2 separate regions of the Homo sapiens genome follow, and region 2 is linked to region 1. Evidence: fine-mapped expression QTL. Tissue or cell type: lymphoblastoid cells. Region 1 holds a variant in brackets; the other region holds the start of a gene. All regions are shown on one strand. Distances are between the middles of the regions.

Evidence for each region. PIP is the estimated chance that this variant, and not a neighbour inherited with it, causes the effect.
Region 2: it holds the start of WASHC4, and the variant in region 1 is fine-mapped to the expression of WASHC4 in lymphoblastoid cells (GEUVADIS, PIP 0.95).

Annotation. Positions count from the first base shown.
Region 1 is chr12:105,054,926-105,066,382 of GRCh38, forward strand. It overlaps ALDH1L2 (aldehyde dehydrogenase 1 family member L2), which reads right to left. Exons shown (of 23, transcript NM_001034173.4): 6 at 10,342-10,431; 7 at 7,963-8,097; 8 at 6,702-6,827; 9 at 6,056-6,147; 10 at 3,148-3,295. Among named protein-coding and RNA genes, the nearest start is that of ALDH1L2, 24 kb to the right of the region's middle. RefSeq lists an enhancer at 5,572-6,771. The variant C/A (reference allele first, on the strand shown) is at 5,552.
Region 2 is chr12:105,103,395-105,113,258 of GRCh38, forward strand. WASHC4 (WASH complex subunit 4) reads left to right here and starts at 4,337. Exons shown (of 33, transcript NM_015275.3): 1 at 4,337-4,467; 2 at 7,731-7,870. The coding sequence starts at 4,407. LOC414300 (a long non-coding RNA gene) reads right to left here and starts at 4,248. Exons shown (of 2, transcript NR_121211.1): 1 at 3,394-4,248. RefSeq lists silencers at 4,146-4,425, 4,636-4,885 and enhancers at 4,446-4,605, 6,444-6,603.

The sequences.
Region 1 (11,457 bases):
ATAATCAGTGGCAATTATTTAATATTGCAGCTGCCCACAGCCACTAAAAAATGGCTGACCAAAAAACAAGAGGAATAACTGGGAATGAGATATCCATAAGAGGCATTGAAAAGCTCTGACATATTCCTGGGAATCCAGAAGACCAATATACAAGCAGGGCTTGTGCATGTGCCCAGAAAAGACCTCAGAAGGCCCTTATCTCTTAACTCTGGATGACTTTGAGGCTCTGTGCAGGCAGGAAGTGTGAAGGTAAGGCAGAATTGTAAACTGCCTGCTGGAGCACTGAAGGTATATCCCAGCACACACACAGAGCCCCCTCACAAATGCTGGGAGACTTATTGGCTCAAGGTGTCTAAGAAAATCTATGCCCAATCATTAGATGACCATTAAAGTAACTGAACAGAGACTTCAGTAGTGGCAAACAATAAAAAATAAAGACTTTACAGAATTGTCAAGGAAGTCATTGAACAACAACAACAAAAAGCAGCAGCAGCAACAGCAACAAATGTTGTGAAGGGAGATGGGGAGAAGGTCTGCTTTCTGGAGTTACCACATTCTATTATTTTAAATGACCACCTTTCAACAAAAGATTACAAGACGTGCAGAGAAACAGGAAAGTATGGCCTATAAACAGGTGAAAAAAAAGCAGCTAATAGAAACCATCCCTAGAGAAGCCTAGACATTGGATTTGCTAAAGAAAGATTTTCAATAAGCTTTTGTAAATATGTTCAATGAACTAAAGGAAACCATGTCTAAAGAATTAAAGGAAAGAGAATAATGTCTTGCCAAACAGAGAATATCAATGAAGAGATAAAAATTATTTTAAAAAGAACCAAATAAAAATGCTTAAGTTGAAAAGTGCAATAACTGAAATTAAAAAATCACTGGAGGGACCCAATAGCAAATTCAAGAAGGTGAAAAAAGCCTGAACAACAGGAAGGAATAAGAATAAAGAAAAATGAACAGAGCCTCAGAGACTTATGGGATACCATCAACTATACCAACATATGCATAAAAGGAATCCCAGAAGGAGAGGAGAATGAGAAGGGAAAGGAAAAATATTTGAAGAAAGAATAGCTGAAAATTTCCTAAATTTGATGAAAAACATTAATTTGCACATTTCAAGAATGCACAATCCAAGAAGCTCAACAAATTCTAATGGGAAAATTCAAAGGCTCCACACCTAGACACATCATAACAAATTATCAAAAGACAAAGAGAAAATCTCAAAAGCAGCAAGAGAGAAGGAACTCATCATACAAAAGAGTCCTTAATAAAATTACCAGTTGACTTATCAGAAACCATGAAGGCCAGAAGGCAATACGATGAAATACTTAAAATGATAAAAGAAAAATACCGTCCAAAAATTCTATACCCAACAAAAATATCCTTCAGAAATGAAGGAGAAATTAAAACATTCCCAAGTGAACAAAAACAGAAAATTGATTGCTAGCATACCTGGCCTACAAAAAGTACTGAGAAGAATCCTTCAAGTTGAAATGAAAGAACACCAGACAATTAACTTGAAAACACATGAAGAAATAAAGAGTACTGGTAAAGGTAACTACACAGGTAAATATAAACATTGGTATAAATATATTTTTTAACTCTATCTCATTAAAAATACAACTTCATAAAGCAATAATTATAAAACTGTTGGTGGGCTCATGATGTATAAAGACATAATTCATATGACAATAATGGCACAAATTAGGGGAGTATGCAACAACTATGTTACAGCAAAGCTTTCCTATACTATTAAGTTGGTGTTCATCTGAACTAGATCATTTTAAGCAAAAATGTTAATTATAATCCTCAAGGCAACCACTAAGAAAATAGCTTAAAAATACAGTTAAATTAAAAATAAGGGATTAAAAAGGCATACTAGACATATTTAACATAAAAGAAAGCAGTGAGGGAGAAATTGAGGAATAAAAAGGTGTCAGACAAGACACAAGAAAGCACAAGTGGCAAAAGAACATAGATAAATTAGACTTCATCAAAATTAAAACCTGTTGTGTGTCAAAGGACACTCAAAGTTTTCAGCAAATCTACAGAATGAGAGAAAATATTTGCAAATCTTACATCTGATAAGGATCTAGTATCGAAAATATACGAAGGACGCTTAAGACTCAGCAATAAAAAGACAAGCCAGTTTTAAAATGAGCTAAGGATTTGAAAGAACAGACATTTCTCCAAAGAAGAAATACAAATGCCCAATAAGTATATGAGAAGATGCTCAACATCAGTAGTCATTAGGGAATACAAATGAAAACCACAATGAGATCCCACTTTACACCCACTAGGACAACTAAAAGAGAAAAGACAGATGAGAGCAAATATTGGCGAGGATATGGAGAAGTTGAAACCCTCATACATTGGTGGGATTACATAATGGTGTAGCCACTTCGGAAAACAGTTTGGCAGTTACTCAAAAAAGTTAAACATAGAGTTACCATATGACTCATCAATTCCACTCTTAGGTACATACCCAAGAGACTTGAAAACATATGTTCATGCAAAAACTTATATATGAATTTTCATAGCATTATTCATAATAGCCAAAAGGTAGAAACAACCCAAATGTACATCAACTGATGAATGGGTAAACAAACTGTGGTATACTTATACAATAGAATATTACTTGGCCAAAAAAAGGGATGAAATGATGATACAACATGGATGAACGTTGGACACATTATGCTAAGAGAAAGAAGCCAGAAACAAAAAGCCACATGTTGTATGATTCTATTTATATGAAATCTCTAAAATAGGCAAATCCATAGACAGAAAAGAGGTTAGCATTTTCTAGGAACTATCATGCTATCCAATTTTGGAACATTTTTTGTATGAGGTAGTCCTGGAAGAGTAAAGAATGACTGCCAATGGGTACAGGGCTTCTTTTTGGGATGATGAAAATGTTCCAAAATTGGATGGCATAATAATTGCACAACCCTGTGAATATATTAAAAACTACCCAAAATGCACATTTTAAAGGGGAATTTTATGCCATCTGAATTAGATCTCAGTAAAGCTGTTGTTTTTTAAAGGTCATAAATATAAAAACAAATGGGCAACAGGCACAGCAGTCTTTTATAGTGTATGGATCTCACTGATTTAGGGTTGCAACATCAAGGAAAAGCTTACATAATCTACAACCAGCTCCACCTCTTGATCTTCTCCTCTCAGTTTCCTCACGACCTTTTGGATAAAGCCTTCAAACTTGGTGGCCATATAGACATCTTCATTCTGCAACTGAAGCCCACCACATTTCTGTCTGATCTCTTCAACCAGCCTTAAAGTAAAAACCAGCTTCGCGTTACTTAGATTTTTAAAAGGGGTTAGGAAGATTGTGTTATTTGCACTTGTCAAGTTGTTTTGAGGTAAGACTTACATCACATGCCTATTTATATCCTATGAGATCTTCTGTGATACTCATCAGAGAAATTGATAAGACTAGGGGCAAGAAATTAAAAATATATCTTGAAGGACAGTGGCAGTTTTTTAAAACTTTATCCATGACTAAAAATAAAAGCAATCAAGGCAAAAATATTTTAATTACTTATAAGCAAGGTAGCAAGGATCATATAAAGTCAACTCCTTTCCTTTCATATATACTCAGGGAATAAGAAACAAAGACACTTTCCTAACTGTAAAGATTATGAGAGATGAATGTCATATTGTAGACTATTTTCTCTAAATTACAAGTATAAGATGGACATTTGTTTGTATTACGTAGTTAACATAGGTACTAGCTAGAACCATATGCAGTAGGTCAGTATAACTTTTGAAGTCCTTTCCAATCCTTTGATTTCCACTGTTAGTTTGTCAAATTACAGCTGTTATCTGACATTTCTTGAATAGCAGTGGTGTACGAGGTACAGTGTAGAAAGTCCACCATGGTTGTGGTTCAATCATTTATTCTCTAAAAGAGATGATACCTTTGTAATCAAGATAATAATATCAGATGATTATGGTAAGCCAGACACTCAAACAGAAAATGAGTAATTCCTGCAGGAGTATCTTGCTAGCAAAAAAAAAAGTATTAATAATACAGTACTGGCCGGGTGCGGTGGCTCACACCTGTAATCCCAACACTTTGGGAGGCCGAGGCGGGTGGATCACGAGGTCAGGAGATCGAGACCACCCTGGCCAACATGGTGAAACCCCGTCTCTCCTAAAAATACAAAAATTAGCTGGGCGTGGTGGCATTTGCTTATAATCCCAGCTACTTGGGAAGCTGAGGCAGGAGAATCGCTTGAACCTGGGAGACGGAGGTTGCAGTGAGCCAAGATTGCGCCACTGCACTCCAGCCTGGCGACAGAGCGAGACTCTGTCTCAAAATAATAATAATAATAATAATAATAATAATAATAATAATAATAATAATAATACAGTACTGTGTGTGATGTACCAGGTGTGATGACTCATGCCTGTAATCCCAACTAGTAGGGAGGATGAGATGAAAGGATGGCTATCCCAGGAGTGCAAGGCTGCTAGTGCAAGTGAGCTGTGATCACACCACTGCACTCCAGCCTAGGCGACAGAGTGAGGCCCTATCTGTAATAATAATCATCATAATGTAGTATTGAAATATTTAGTTAAGCCAATTAGAAGTTTCTGGGAACTCATGAATCACAGCTGAGAAATCTATAATTTGAGGAGCCGAAACTCTTGACTTTTGAAAACACTATGTGCTCTTGAAATGATTGTTTTTGATTTCTGGAATAAAACCTCCATGAATAAAGGGGACGTTGTCTAGTTTACACTGTATCCCCAGTGCTAAAACTGTTCCTGACATGTAGTAAGTGTTCAGTCAGTGTTGTTAAGTAAATGAGTGAGTAGATAGAATATTCATCAGGAACGTTGCTTTGTCAATATGAAGGATTTTATCAAGAGGAGGAACATTTTTGCCTTGTTTAATTAGTGTATGGCCACAATGTGGCCTAGGATCAAATCCTCTTAGCTTCTATTCTCTGTACCCACCATCAAGGGACTGCACAGTCCCTGGTGAGCTCCAGCTGTCTTGTTATCCCAGTTACTCGAAGAAAAACACCTCTGAAAGATGCTGCACCAGTAGGATCCTGGTCCAGTTTCCTTGCGATAGAGGCTTTCTGGGACTCCAGCCCTTTCAACTTGCTCTAAACCTCTGTGGAGAAATTCTGATATTGGGTGATTACACTTGTCCTTGCAAGTAGCCTGATAACCCTCATTCTAGATCTGTCTTACTAGGTAATTTATGGGGGGGGCGAGGGTAGGAGAAAAAAGATTTGGGGGAAAGCATAATTAATATCAGGTATCAGATATTATTCTGGTAATATTATTAATATCAGGTGTCAGATATTATTCAGATAATATTCTGGATCAGGCTGCGTAGGAAATTCACTGTTAGCATTCTCACCCAGAGCTTCTCAATTCTGATGTCATATTGGAGGAAAATTAGCTAAGAAACTGGAAGGACAAATTTTTAAAAGATGCAAACAATTCTAAGGGTTGCTTTTTTAGGTATACGGAAGATATGAAAACAACTTCTGGTTAGCAACAAAGAGAA[C/A]TAAACGGATATATCTGCTTGACCATGGAAACAATAGCAAAAAAAGATGAAGAATAAAGATGTGTTGGCCGAGCGTGGTGGCTCACACCTATAATCCCAGCACTTTGGGAGGCCGAGGCAAGCGGATCAGCTGAGGCCAGGAGTTCGAGACCAGCCTAACCAACATGGAGAAACCCCATCTCTACTAAAAATACAAAATTAGCTGGGCGTGGTGGCGCATGCCTGTAATCCCAGCTACTCGGGAGGCCGAGGCAGGAGAATCACTTGAACCTGGGAGGCGGAGGTTGCGGTGAGCCGAGATCGCACCATTGCACTCCAGCCTGGGCAACAAGAGTGAAACTCCATCTCAGGAAAAAAAAAAAAAAAAAAAAAGATGAGTCATAGATAGGTATGATAAGGTAATCACATCCAGAACAAAGGATGTGTGTGGATTTCACTGTCAAAGCCAAAGTCAAAATCTCTAGTGAGGGAATCCCTAGTGAGTCAATAAGGGCGTGGTTTTACCTGGCAACATCCATTGAGCTTGCTCCAGATTTAAAGAAGTCTGTTGAGTCTTCAATAATGGGGACATTGCTTAAAATTCCAGCCCAGATGACCTACACAAAAAGGAAACTCTTATGAGGGAAGTGCCACGTAGAACAATGTGGCAGAGACTGGGCTAGCTCTTCACCAAACCAATTCCCTCTTCATCTTGTACACTCAGCTGTACATACAGCTGGATCACATTTCTCAGCGCCTCTCCAAGTTAGATGCAACCAATGAACAGGAGTGGAAGTGACCTGCACCACCCCAGTCCTAGCCCATGTAAACCTCCTCCACGCCATTCTACATGCTCCTTTGCCCTTCTGGCTGTCTGGAATAGAGACGCCCCCCAGGGAGACCTTGAAAATAACAGAAACTGGGTTCCTGAATGACTTCACCCCTAACCCCCGTGCCAACCTGGAACTGCCTTGGATGACTTATGTGAAAAATCAGTTTGTATATACTGTGTTTAAGCATATGAATTTGGAGGTTGATTTCCTCTTGCAGCTAATACAAAAAAAGAGGAAATAAAGTTCTGATCCCACTACTTTGAGGACTGATGGTACCAGTTACGAACATGCTTCAGTTTTCCAAGGTAACAGTAAGATTTAAGTCATCATGTGTTCACCTTGATGGTCTCTGCCACTTTCACCTCTTCAGCTGTCAGTTCTACCACTGACGTCTCACCCGTTGAAAAGTACTGAGAGGCAGGGATCATTTTTCCATCTTCAAACTGCAGATTTCTCACCGTCAGCTACAAAATAGCAACAAAACAAGCATAAAAATTGAGGATTGAGACAATACAAAAGTGAGGCTGGTGGGAGGAGTCCTATAGATTATATGCATATAAGGGCAAGTTTATTTGGAAAAATACAGATTAAAAGCATTCACCATTATGTGTAAAAGGGCTGAAATGGCACTTGAATAATGGCAGCAGAAAGGAAAAAGTGAGGTCCAGGGATAGGTACATCTCAAAATGGAAAATAAGTCCTGGAAAATTTGACACTTGGACGTAGGTATTTGAATTAGAATCTATTATGAAAATAACAGACACCACCAGTGCTGCTGCAACTCTGCAGCTGCTGCCTCTGAGCACTTGCCCTGTACCATGCTCAAGAATGCATGCATAAGTGCTTGCTTCAGCAGCACATATACTAAAAAAAAGAATGCATGCATGTGCTGAAGGATCTTACCTAATTTCATAAAAGCCAGTGGAGGCGGATGCCATTATTATTCCCATTTTACTGATGCAGAAAGGGAGGCTCAATGAGGTTCAGTAATTTGCTCAGTGCCACACAGACAGTAAGTAAAAGAGCTGGGAGTAGAACCTGGAACTAGCGGCCTACAGTCTTAACGATTTATCCTGCAGCAACTGGAAAATATCTGTAAGCTACAAATTCCCTTTGCACGCTTCATTGGGAAGCTTCGCAAGGGCACACTGAGGCCCAGGGCCAACCCTCCTGAGCATAGGCAGTTTAGGTGGTGCCTGTCTGGTGGATCAGTGGCAAGGGGCATCTGAGGAGGGCCACATCTATTTCACTTGATCCTCCCAGAATCTGGCATTGGGAAGGCAGACAGACAAGATTCTCCTCTCTGTTATAAAGATGGCAAAACAGACTCAAAGGGAAGAATCATCCTGCCCAAGACCAGCGAGTGGGAAGCAGGGATTCACATCCTTATCTCCCCACTGAATTCCAGCCTCTTTCCACTTTACACAAGGCAGCCTATGCAGATCTGTGGGGCCCATCTTGAGACACCTCATCTCCATCAGGGCACTCAGAGCCAGCTCCTCCCCAGCCAGCAATGGAGTGAAAGCTATTCCCTTAATAGCTTGGGTTATAGAAGAAAATCAAAAGGTTATTTCATAGGCAGCCATATTTAACACTCACTGCTTTTCCATCGTTACCAAAAAGAACAAGTCCATTTTTGGTAACGAGACCAGGCTTCTTGGCACCTTTAATTTCCAGTGGTTCTCCAGGAGGCACAGAGCTATTCAGTAATGTCGAGCCATAGAAAGTGACCATCTAGTAAAGAGATCAAACACAGATTGTAAAATCAGGAGAAAAGCTGTTCATAGCGGTATGTATAAGCATCATTCTCTGCAAAAACGCTGAAGTTCATATTATCATCTGTAATAAAATTGAGACACCACAATGGGAGAAACTGTCTCAAACATCCATAGAAATGACACAAGGTGGCCGGGCACAGTGGCTCACGCCTGTAATCCCAGCACTTTGGGAGGCAGAGGCAGGCAGATCACGAGGTCAGGAGATCGAGACCATCTTGGCTAACACGGTGAAACCCCGTCTCTACTAAAAATACAAAAAATTAGCTGGGCATAGTGGCGGGCACCTGTAGTCCCAGCTACTCGGGAGGCTGAGGCAGGAGAATGGCGTGAACCCGGGAGGCGGAGCTTGCAGTGAGCCGAGATTGTGCCATTGCACTCCAGCCTGGGCGACAGAGCCAGACTCTGTCTCAAAGAAAAAAAAAAAGAAAGAAAGAAAGAAATGACACAAGGCAAGAAATAGTCTGTGAATATGTCACTGGAGAGTCCAAAATGCCCCACATCCAGGTGACATGAGTATGCATTTATCACATATTTGCATTGATACAAAGGTGAATGAGATAAAAAGCTCTCAGCCTTTATAGCCTGAAGGTAGGGTTTGGGTGGGTGGGGAGGTGTTGGGGGTGGGCGTCAATGATGGGCAATGCACAGTGGTCACCAGACTATTACAGTGCAGGGTGGTAAGTGATGAGAAGCACAGGGTGCTTTGTGAGTCAGTTCATGGAAAAAGGATTGGATCCAGAGAGTAACCAAGAGACACTGACGCTGACTGCATTATTATTGCACTTCTAGGATGATCAGCTATCATTTATGGAGCACTATTATGATTATGCTATAATGGTTTGTTGAATACTTACTCTAGGCCCAGGGCTAAGTACTTAAATGAGTTAACATGTATTAATTCTTTTTTTTTTTTTTTTGAGACAGAGTCTTGCTCTGTCACCCAGGCTGGTGCAATCTCGCTGCAACCTCTGCCTCCCGGGTTCAAATGATTCTCCTGCCTTAGCCTCCCAAGTAGCTGGGATTACAGGCACATGCCACCACACCGAGCTTTTTTTTTTTTTTTTTTTTTTTTTTTTTTTTTTTTTTTTGTATTTTTAGTAGAGACAGGGTTTTGCCATGTTGGCCAGGCTGATCTCGAACTCCTGACCTGGGTAATCCTCCCACCTCGGCCTCCCAAAGTGCTGGGATTACAGGTGTGAGCCACCATGGCTGGCCAACTCATTTAATCTTCACAATTACCCATAACCTAAGGGAGGCAGTATTATTAGTCCCATTTTACATTGAGGAAACCAAGGCACCCAGTGGTTAAGAAACCTGCCCGAGGTTACACAGTAAATTTTCATAGAAGCATTCTGGCTTCAGATCCTGCACTCTTAACCATTACACTAAACTCCCTCCCTTGGTCACCCATCGAGCCCATGGATTTTTATTGGCACTTAGTATGTACCCAGACTCCTGCTTAACTGCTGAGATTATCAAGACAATCACATGAAGCCCTTGCCCCTAAGGAGTTCACAGTCTAGTGTTGGGGGGAATAAAGAGACCCTCACAATATATGATGTGCGATGCCAGAGGTAGGCAGAGTGTTGCTGGAACCCAGAGATGGGCCATCAGACCCTGCCAGTCTGGGCATGTGAGATCAGGAAACCTCCCCGAAGAGGTGAAACCTGAGAGCCTGGGCTGAGTCAATTACCCATGGATAGAAGACCCTTCAGGCCCTGCCCGCCTCTCCCGCCTCAGCTCTCCCCATGCCTGTCCTCACAGTTCAGACCCTGGCTTCACTGAACTCCTTTTGCAAGTCCTTGACCAGGTGCTGGAGTCTCTTATCTCTGGGGCTTCACCTACTTGTCTTGCTCTCAACCTGGTTAACTCTTCTCGAGCAAAGCAGTGAGCTTTTCTAGGAAGCCTTTCCTAACATGCCTGAGTCTCAGCCTCCATGATAGCGTTTATCTTACTGCACTGAGAATGTTTATTCACTTCTCTGCACTCCCCATAAAACTGCAGGCTCCTTAGATCAGGCGCTGGATTTAGTGTCTGCTGCACAATAAATGCTTAATACATGCTGAGTAAAGGGGAGAGTGAATCACAGACCTGCCTCATGACCAAGGAAGAACCATGGGAAGCCCAGATTTATCTGTAATATCTCTTACAAAGGTAATAATCGGGGAGGGGGGTGGGGGGAGTGGTCCCTAAAACATACCTGTCCATTTATCTCTGTCCAAGCTCCAGGGACTTTATCATGACCTCGAATCCAGTTATGTAAAACTTCGGCAGACTGGTCCCAAGAAATCTAGGAAGGCACAAAATACAGGCTGAGCCTCCTATGGCTGTGAACCTCAAAGGCAATAAAAACGCTTCTCGTCATCAGAGGCAGAAACACTTGTTATTGGGAAATAAAGGAATTTTTGCTTCTTAGTTTTATTTGGAGTAAGTATTTTGTCAGGTGGCTGATTTAGTAAACAAGAGACTTTATTAAAGGAAAATAAAAAGCAGAGGGTTATTTAAAGGGACAGTATGCTTTGTAAAGATGAAGTAGAGCGGGCTGTTGAGGGGAGTAGGCCAGTAGCTGTTGGAGAGTTTTATGTTGGGTTTTTATTAGGTTGAACTTTTTTTTGAAGTTCCCACCTCTGTTAAGTCTCTGCCTCTTTTTTTTTTTGTCTAGTTTGTTTGTGTCTGTCTTAGCTCTCTGCTTTGTCCGCACCTAGATTTTGTCTCAGGTTTATGGGACCCTCCATATTATTAGTTGGTGTGTATGTGTGGATTGGTGTTGGATATGAATATTACCTGATGCCTGTGTTGTTTACTATTGTCACTGCAGGGAGGTTGTATAGTGGCCAAATCTATACCTACTGCATCTGTGTGTTTTTTTGGAATTTCCTTCTCTGCCCTAAGCTGAACTTATGGCTCCAGGTTTTTGTTTTTTGTTTTTTGAGACAGGGGTCTCACTGTGTTGGCCAGGCTGGTCTCGAATGCCTGGTCTCAAGTGATCCTCCTCCCTCAGCCTCCCAAAGTGCTGGGATTACAGGCATGAGCCACTGTGCCCAGCGCACCTAGCATGCCAGATTTTTTAAGGAATATCCCCTTTGCCCTTTTCATTAGCATGTAGCTAGTGATATTTTGACATTTTAACTGCAGAGCGAAGGATTGTTGGGCAGACTGAAGAGGCGTTTCTGGGCATTTTTTATTTGCTTGTTTGTTTGTTTGTTTGCATAGTATCTCCTCTCCTTTCTATGCACATTTGACTAAGTGCCCACCCACTCCAGCATTAGAGATACTATTAATATGCAAATTTTGAGTGGTCTTCCAGACACGAGTC
Region 2 (9,864 bases), 48 kb after region 1:
GGCTTCTTGACTTCCTATATTTACTGTAATTATTTTCTGAGTGCTTAACATGTATCAGGGACTGTGGAATGTGGGAATAAATCATGGTCCCTGATACCAAAGAGCTGATGGTCTGTATTAGGCTGAATAACAGGTGCCCAAAGATGTTCATGTCCTAATCCCTACACCCTGTGAATATGTTACTTTACATGTTTAAAAGGACTTTGCAGATATGATTAAGGTAAGGATTTTTGAGATAAGGAGATTATCCTGGATTATCTGTGTGAGCTTGATGTAATCACAAGGGTCATTATAAGAGGAAGGCAGGTGAATCAGTCAATAGTAGGAAATGTGATGGGAGAAACAAGAGGTTCAAGTAATGCACAGAAGATGAGAAAGGCAAAGAAATAGATTCTTAGTGTCCAAGAGGAATCAGCCCTACTAACACCTTTACTTTAGCCCAGTGAGACTGATTTTGGCATTCTGACCTCTAGAACTAGAAGATAATAAATTTGTACTCTTTTAACCACTAAGTTGGTGACAATTTGCTACAGCAGCAATAGGAAACTAATACATAACTTAATAGTGAAGATAATTATGTCAATAGATAACTTTGAAGTGGTAAATACCATGGAAGCACAGGGCCGAAGCACTTGGTCCAACCAGGAATTCAGGGAATTAGATATAACGGTAATCTAGGCTGGGCGCAGTGGCTCACTCCTGTAATCCCAACATTTTGGGTGGCCGAGGTGGGCGGATCACCTGAGGTCAGGAGTTCAAGACCAGCCTGACCAACATGGCAAAACCCCGTCTCTACTAAAAATACATATAGTGGTAATCTATATGATTCCACAATCACTGATAACCAACCAGTACAAGGATTTTAGGATCCCTTAAATAAAAGGGCAGATTGGAAGAAGCCTTGAGTTACATGCTATGAAGCATAAATTCCATACCATAGGCAATGGGAAGGATCTAAAAGGGCATGACCTGATCAGATAGGTTTCGAGAAGCTTCACACAGAGAATGTGGACAGTGGAGAGAGAAGACCTGTCACACATCTATAGTGGTTGTTCAAGTGAGGGATTACTTTGTAAATAAATACATGAATTAACATATTAGGAATTTTTTAAACAGATACACGCAGGATTCTGTGACAAACTACTAAGTGAAATGTCTCTAGTGAGTTATTGCCATAGAATTTCTATTGTAGGAAGAAGATTTTATTTATTTTAGATTGTATTTATTTATTTTAAACTTTTATTTTAGGTTTAGGGGTACATGTAAAGGTTTGTTACATAGGTAAACTCATGTCACGGGGGTTTGTGGTACAGATTATTTCATCACCCAGGTATTAAGCCCTGTACCCAATAGTTATCTTTTCTGCTCCTCTCTCCACTCCCACCCTCCACTCTCAGTTAGCCTCCAGTGTCTGTTGTTTCCTTCTTTGTGTTAATGAGCTTTCCTCATTTAGCTCCCACTTATAAATGAGAACATGTGGTATTTGGTTTTCTGTTCCTGTGCTAAGTTTGCCAAGGATAACAGCCCCAGCTCCATCCATGTTCCTGCAAAAGCTATGATCTCGTTCTTTTTCTTGGCTGCATAGTATTCCATGGTATATATGTACCACATTTTAAAAATCCAATCTGTCATTCAGGAGCATTTAGGTTGACTCCATGTTTTTGCTATTGTGAATAGTGCTGCAATGGGAAGATACATTCCCATGCATGTATCTTCATGGTATAATGATTTACATTTCTCTGGGTAAAAATCCAGTAATGGGATTGCTGGGGTGAATAGCAGTTGGAAGAAGACTTTTAATGTAAGTTAATAAACAAATTCACCAAGAACTTAGCTATATAACATATATGTAAAATATTTTGGTATGGAATAAACTAGAACTTAAGGTGTGGGTATATGGGGCTGTAAGTTAAAGGCACAGATTCCTAGGAACTGGCAGGCAGGCACCTTCTGTAGGCAGCTGTTCTAAAGTTCACAGAAGCTCTCAGAATAGCACAATATTGCCCATATGAAAAGTTTCTCCTTCTATTTCCAAGCTTGCTTTTCAGAAAGTACCGTGTGAATGAAGAGTAGTAGAATGAAGAATATGTGATTACTTAAAATAATGATTTGCCTTCTGCAGACTACGTCTAAGAACAATAGGACATTTTTATAAATAACTTTCAGATAGCACTTTTCATTTAGTGAATGTGCTTTTCTATTTGGTATCTAATTTGTAATTCTCTAACAAAATTTGAAATTATAGGCTGTGAAATTTGATTTAAACATATTTAAGATCAAGACAGAAAATCCCTGAGTTTTTTTTTTTTTTTTGAGATGGAGTCTTGCTCTGTTGCCCAGGCTGGAGTGTAGTGGCTCAGACGACTTTCCTGCCTCAGCCTCCAGAGTAGCTGGGACTATAGGCAGGCACCACCATGCCCATCTAATTTTTATATTTTTAGTAGGGACAGGGTTTCACCACGTTGCCCAGGCTGGTCTCAAACTCCTGACCTCAAGTGATCCACCCACCTTGGCCTCCCAAAGTACTGGGATTACAGGCATGAGCCACCACACTGGGACTTGTGAGATCTGGGACTTCTGAGATCTTTTTAAGATAAATCTATATTGATTCATAATAGCAACCTGGTACAGTATGTGGTTGGTATTGTTCTATGTACCTTATATGTATTAACTAATTTAGTCCTCGTAAGAATCCCACAAGGTGTTTACTAGTTTTATTTTATTTTCATTTTATAGATGAGGAAATTGAGGCAGAGGTTAAATTACGTGACCCAAGATCACATGGTTAGTAAGTGGCAGAGCCAGGATTTGGACCTAGGCAATTTGGCAGTCAAAACTGTGCTTTCAATTATTACATGACACTGCCTCTTGCTACTAATCTATTAACTTTAATAGATTAGTGTATTTATAGACTCAAATTTTTCTGACTTGTAAGTTCAATTTATCACAATGAGCTGCTGGGAGATTAATTACAGTGATTTAATGCAAATGTTAAGAATCCAGGAAAGTCAAACTCATGGTCACACAGAAAGTACAGGAAAAAAGTTTGTCAGCCATTAGACCCTAAGGATGCCTGTTCTTTTCAAGATTTTTTTTTTCTTTCTGAAATGCCCACTAAGTCTGCCATAGGGTCAGAAAGCAATTTTCTTACATGTTTTATAGTTTCTGCATCTAGCCTGGTGCCTGGTACCCAGTGGGCACTCAATAAACATTTAACTCAGGGCAGATCCAATGACCTCAGAAGAATGCTCTTCAATAGACCTTTTGCCTACATTGATTAGTTCTTTTCGGTACTTTTTAAGATTACAAGAGTAAAACCCTAATAAATTCTCATTGTTAAGGATTCAAAACACATAAGTAGACACATCAAAACTTGAAAATCCTGTTACTCACCAACACATGCTTTTCCCCAGGTAACCACCGTCCTCTGATTTGTCTTCCTATGAATTTACATACACGTAGGCACATACGCGTTTGTATAACTTAAAAACATAAATGTAATCACAAATACACATTACTCTGCAACTGTCTTGTGTCGGTTGTTCATGCCATTATAAATATATTTCATCTATTTTAGCAGCTCTTCAGTGATTCGTAGTATGGATGTATTGAGCTTTATGTAATTCACTTGTAATGAACATTTAGATAGTTTCCTATTAAAAACCACGTTGCTATAAATATTCTTGTGCAAATACGTGTATGCATGTAGAATTTTACACCGATCCCGATTCTCCAAAAATCCAAATTGCAGGTGGGATCATTTTAGAATGTACTTCAATAGCGTTCTTCATCCTGCCTCGCGTTTTTAAAAGGACTGAGTGGAGAGCGGGGAAGAGGTCGTAAGATCCCCTGTTAGGGTGTTCATAAAGTAACTTCTCCTCTCGCACAGAACGTCTTGACTAAAAAACAATCCGTACAGAATGTGCGGGAGAGCTGTAGGAACTCCTACGGTGGCGACAGAGAGGGAAACAGGCTTGTTGGAAGAAGCGCCTGGTCAGCGTTATCCTCGAGGATCATGCCTTCCTGTTAATTCCCCACCCCATCAATTCTACCTTTTTAGGTTAGACTGGGGAGTAACTTTCCCAGGTATTAAAAATCGTCTAGAGAGAGCAGGGCGAAATTAGAGTGCCGAAGTGGCTTGAGAAGCACAGTGAATGGTGGCGAAGCCCGAGCCGGGTCGCAAGACGCCCGCTGGCACTGCCGGCGCCATGGCGGCCGCCTTCGGCCACGGCGGAGGACTCGCTTTCCCAGGGGCCCCCGCGGTCGCAGGGGCAACGAGCCCGGCCGGCCCTCGCGAGCGGAGGCGGGGCCGGGGCCGGAAGTCACGTGCTGTGACAGTAGCTGGGGTGAGGCCGTCGTCGCCGCACGGGCTGGTTGGGGCTGTGTCTGTGGGAGGCGCCGGGGTGATGGCGGTGGAGACTCTGTCCCCGGACTGGGAGTTTGACCGCGTTGACGACGGCTCGCAGAGTAAGGGAGCTGCAGGGCGAGGGCTGCGGGTGGACGCTCCTTCGGCCCGCCGCTGTTCTGGGCTGGGCAGCGCTCCTGCGAGAGGGACGGCTGCGCAGCCGTCTGGTGCGGGACACTTCAGAGCCCTTGGGGTGTGCGAGGGACGCGCTCTCCAGCGTTACTTTCGGGGTTGGGGTCCCAGCCACGGCGGGTCAGGCTGCCCGTTCAGGGCTCGGCGTGTGAGGCGGAGACTCTCCTGGGGAGCCTGCGGTGCCCCGCGGGGAGCGGCGTCCCCCTTCAGCTGCCCCGGGGCTTGGGCGGGGCGCGCCCGGGAGGCCCAGCGGCCCCGGGATCCCAGGCTGCTTCTGTCTCTGGCCTCTTGGGGATTTCGCCAGATTCTGAGCGTTCAGCTCTGGAGGACGCTGATGTCTGGGTTCCTGTTTCGGTTTCCTGTTTTTCTTCTTTTCCTCCCAAATCAACTTTTGCAAGTTTGGGTGTCTTTCCCATCGCGTTGCTATAACCGTAGAAGGGAGCGAAAAAAGAACTTTTCACCCTGCGAAAATAAACACGTGAATGTCATTTTATCATTTTCCAGGCCTTTTATTTATGCTAAGTGATATTTTTCAGTGATGTTCTGCAGTTTCCATCGCAGTTATAAAGGCTTCAAAAATTACAGCAAATCTTCAAATTTTGCTTCACAAGATCGAATTGTCTGATTTTAACTTAGAAGTCTATCCCGAAATAAACAAATTGTGTTTCTTTCAGTAAAATATTGAGGCCAAATTAATTGTAGTGAAACTCTACTTGAAATAAATACAAGTTGGCAATCTGCTTCTTATCTTTGGTCATAGTAATCTGTGTAAGTGATCTAAGAGAGATTGGAGCATGCTGTTTGTGATTTTTTTTTTCCCTCATAGTTTTCCCAAAAGGTGGAACGTTGCTTTTAAAAATTCCGGATGAATTTTGCTTGATTTACGAAGAGAGACTAATGCCTACAATGTTAGATGAATTAGGTTTTACAAGTCTCTCAGAGAAGAGTGAGCTACATCCAGGATGGGTTGCAGTTTTTCACAAAACATTCCTGAGGTCAGGAGTTCAAGACCAGCCTGGCTAACATGGTGAAACCCCGTCTCTACTAAAAAATAAATAGCTGGGCTTGGTGGCGAGCGCCTGTAATTCCAGCTACTTGGGAGGCTGAGGCAGGAGAATCGCTTGAACCCGGCAGGCGGAGGTTGCAGTGAGCCGAGATCGCGCCATTGCACTCTAGCCTGGGTGATAATAAGGTATTAGCTCTTATGCAGCATAAAAATTAACCTTGGAGATAATGACAAAATCTTTTAATTTTTTTTTGTGGAGGGGATTCTGTATTGTTATAAAGTGAACTGTACCTTGTCATATATGTTTTATGGACAAAGATGACGAACTGGTATCTTCAAAAAAAATTGGAATAGAGTTATGTTAATTGAGTTTGAAAATGGTTCAGCCTGGAGTAGAATGGTCTGATTCACTCAACAGATATTTTCTACAACCAGTGGCTGTGCTAGATATTAGGGATAAAAAGATAAAACAAGGAGTGCAGTCTGTTGACAAAGATGAGCATGTTAAGTAGGTTTTTGGAATTTTTACTCTTAAAAAATTACCATGTAGTTCTTATCTCAACTTTTGTTATTTTAACTTTCACCAATTTTACAACCGTTTATTGTCAGCAAGGAACTTTTAATGTTATTTTAGGTTTTCTGTTTCCTGTTTGTGAATCCCTGAACATACTAAAGGAGTGATTTATTGGCGTGGTGTTTCTCTAGCATTGTCTTTTTTTTTTTTTTTTTTTTTCGAGACAAGGTCTCACTCTGTCGCCCAGTGCCGTGGCATCGCCACGGCTCACTGCAGCCTCGACCAGCTGAGCTCAGGTGATCTTCCTACCTCAGCCTCCTTAGTAGCTGGCTGATTTTTTCTTTTTAAATTGGGATAGAGACAAGGTTTTGCCATGTTGAACTCCTGGTCTCAAGCGACCCACCGGCCTTGGCCTCCTAAAGTGTTGGGGTGAGCCACCATGCCCGGCCTAGCATTGTCTTTAAGAAGTCATTTGCTGGTCAAATGCAGCTTTGACTGGTCATTTCCTGTGTAGTTGAGAATAAGACAACTATTTGGGGTTCTGAGAATCTGGGCAGTCTTATATGTAAGCTGTAGGGAAGAGAACACCTCCCTGTGCTTGGCGTTCATTAATTTTTGGTCTGTGAATCATATCTAGACTAATTGTTTTCCAAAATTGCCTAGATTAATGCTATAATAAGACAGAAACCTTAATGAACTAAATGGATTCACCGGATTTAAAACTTTATGTGGTTGAAGAATAAAGGAGAGTGGGGGCTAGGTCTTTATACTTTAATACAGCATGAGTCAGAACACACTTTCTCTTACTTGCTTCACATTGCTAATTTGAGGAGAGCAAATTTTTACCTTTTTTAGAAGACAAAGGTTGAATAAAGTTATTCATATCAATAAAAGAAACTGAGTTGGAGTTGAATTTGTTACCTTTGGGAACAAGTAATGAATTTTTATGTGTAACGTGAAATACTTTGACGAATAGGCATATTTTAAAATCCAGCTTATTCCAATGATTCCTTAAAGTTACCTATGAATGTGTTAATTCTGTGAAGAACAGCATAGTATTCTGTAGTCAAGCAGTGTTCTTTGCTGGTTTTTCCAACTTGATTATGACAGTTAAATAATTTAACAAATATCTTGGTTAAATTTTAGACATTATAGAAATAATATGCTCAAGCAGGTATAAAACCTCCATTTAAAAATATTTAGGTGTATTATTAAACATTAGTGTGTATAGAATTAAAAACTACATTTTTAAGTGTTACTTCTGTGACAGACTGTTTTTTTCACCTTCAGATCATGAATATTTGTTTTTGCAAAAGAGTTGTTCATGACTAAAAGATAGAATCAGGACATTGAATTGTTTAAGGCACTTTTCAGATTGGTTCAAAGCCCTCTATTATGGGGGTAGATGGGCTAGTGGCTTTTTCATAATATGTTAGGGTTTTAAGGTAGTAACTTTATATATGGTAACATCTACTGCTTTTAAAATTATTTCGTGTATAGAGAAGATTGAAAGCTGAATTGTTGTTTAACTTTGGAACTTTATTTTCAGGAAGTCCAGACATTCCAGAGTAATAATTAACAGTGCTTTGCGTGACTTTTGAGGTTATTTGAAGTAAATGTCCTGCAATTCATTACTTGCACTTATCACATACTGTTTTAAAATTTAAACTTAGAAATTCATGCCGAAGTCCAACTTAAGAATTATGGGAAATTTCTTGAGGAGTATACCTCTCAACTGAGAAGAATTGAGGACGCTCTGGATGACTCAATTGGAGATGTTTGGGATTTCAATCTTGATCCTATAGCATTAAAGGTTTGATTTGATTTTTTAAAAATATATGTATATATTTTCTGGACATACTATATCCTGAAAACATAATTTTTTAAAATGGAAAAAGTATTTTTATTTGAAATCTAAGAACAAAATGAAAGTTGGAGAAAATTGTTAATTTCCTTTTCTCTAAGCCATGCAGATGTTTTTTAAATGTGTGTGTTTTCTGTTTAAGAATGACAAACACACAGCCTTTAGTGTCAAAGAATGACACAAACTCCAAGTCTTTGAGCTTGCCTTTGATTTTCATTATTAAGAAAATGAGGGCTGGATAGAATATTCAGGCTTTGTTTTTTCTTGATTGAGACTATTTTACATAGAGTGAAATGCAGATACTCTTAATTTTGCCAAACACTTGTAACTCATATCCCAATTAAGATAGAGAATATTTTCACCATTTCTGAAAAGTTCTCTCATGCTATATAGATGTTAATGTGTGAGTAATTTTTTAATGTATAAAATACATTACTCTTTCCATTTTGAAATATTTCTTTTATCTTTAAAATTAGTTTGTTACCACTTGAAAAATAATTTACATTTTATTGAGCACTTGTGTATTACACACTGTCCTAAGTCACACACTGACTTGTTTTTATAACAGCTTTCTTGAGATATAATTCATATATCATACAATTCACTCATTTAAATTGTATAATTCAGTTGTTTTTAGCATATTCACTGAGTTGTACAACCATCACAACAGTCAATGTTAGAACGTTCTCAGCCCCCAAAAAAGAAACCATGTACCGTGTGATAATCAACCCCCAGTTCATGCCATGGCATACCTGCCCTAGGCAACCACCAGTCAATCTACTTTTTATCTCTATGTGTTTGTCTCCTCTGTACACTTCATATAAATGAAATCATACGATATGTGCTCCTTTGTTGCTGGCTTCTTTAACTTATGTTTTCAAGGCTCATCTATGTTGTCACATGTTTTTAGTACTTTCTTTTTTTGCTGTTGCTGAATAATATTCCATTGTAAGGAATGGATAACCACATTTTATTTATCCATTCATCAGTTGATAGACATTGGATTTTTCTACTATTTGGCTGCTATGAGCATTTGGGCACATGATTTTGTGTAGACATATATAAGTATATTGTATATAAAATGTGTGTACATTGTGTGTATATTTTATACATATGTATATATGGGAGTGGAAATCCTGGGTTATGTGGTAACTATGTTTAACTTTTTGAGGAACTGCCAGAATGTTTTCCAATATGGCTATACCATTTTACATTACTACCAGCACTGCATGAGGGTTCCAGTTTCTCTACATCCTTGCCAGCCTTTATTGTCTTGATTATATTCTTCCTAGTGAATGTGAAAGCTCATTGTGGCTTTGATTTGCATTTCTGATGGCTAATAATGTTGAGCATCTTTTCATGTGCTTATGGCCATGTGTCTGTTTTCTTTGGAGAAATGTCTGTTCACATCCTTTGCCCATTTTTAAATTGGGTTATCTTTTTAGTATTGCATTATAGGACAAGTATTGACTTTTAATTCCCACCACAATCCTATAAAGTAGATACAATGTCATCTCCATTTGTAAATGAGAAAACTAAGGCATAGAAAAGTTAAGTAACTTAGTCAAGTAAGTGACACATTTAGTTAAATAATGAATATCAGGCAGCTTGACTCCAGAGCCTGTGCCCTTATCCAATACCCTGAACTGCCTCACAAATACTTTATATATTTGTAAACTGAAATTACTTTCCTTTGACTTCTTTTCTTGCAGGCTGGATAGACTTAGTCTTACTTTAAAAATCATCCCCCCCCAAATTTGTAATTGTCTCTTTTTGTTCCTCAACACTTCTGTGAGAATCATTGTATGTAAGTTATAGGAACTCTACTAGGAAACTGTCATTCTCAACCTGTACTATCTCTGAGGGTAATAAGTTTCATATATCTGTCACTTGGCATTAAGTAATACATGTTGATTTTTTAAACAGATGCTGTTGGGCTTTCT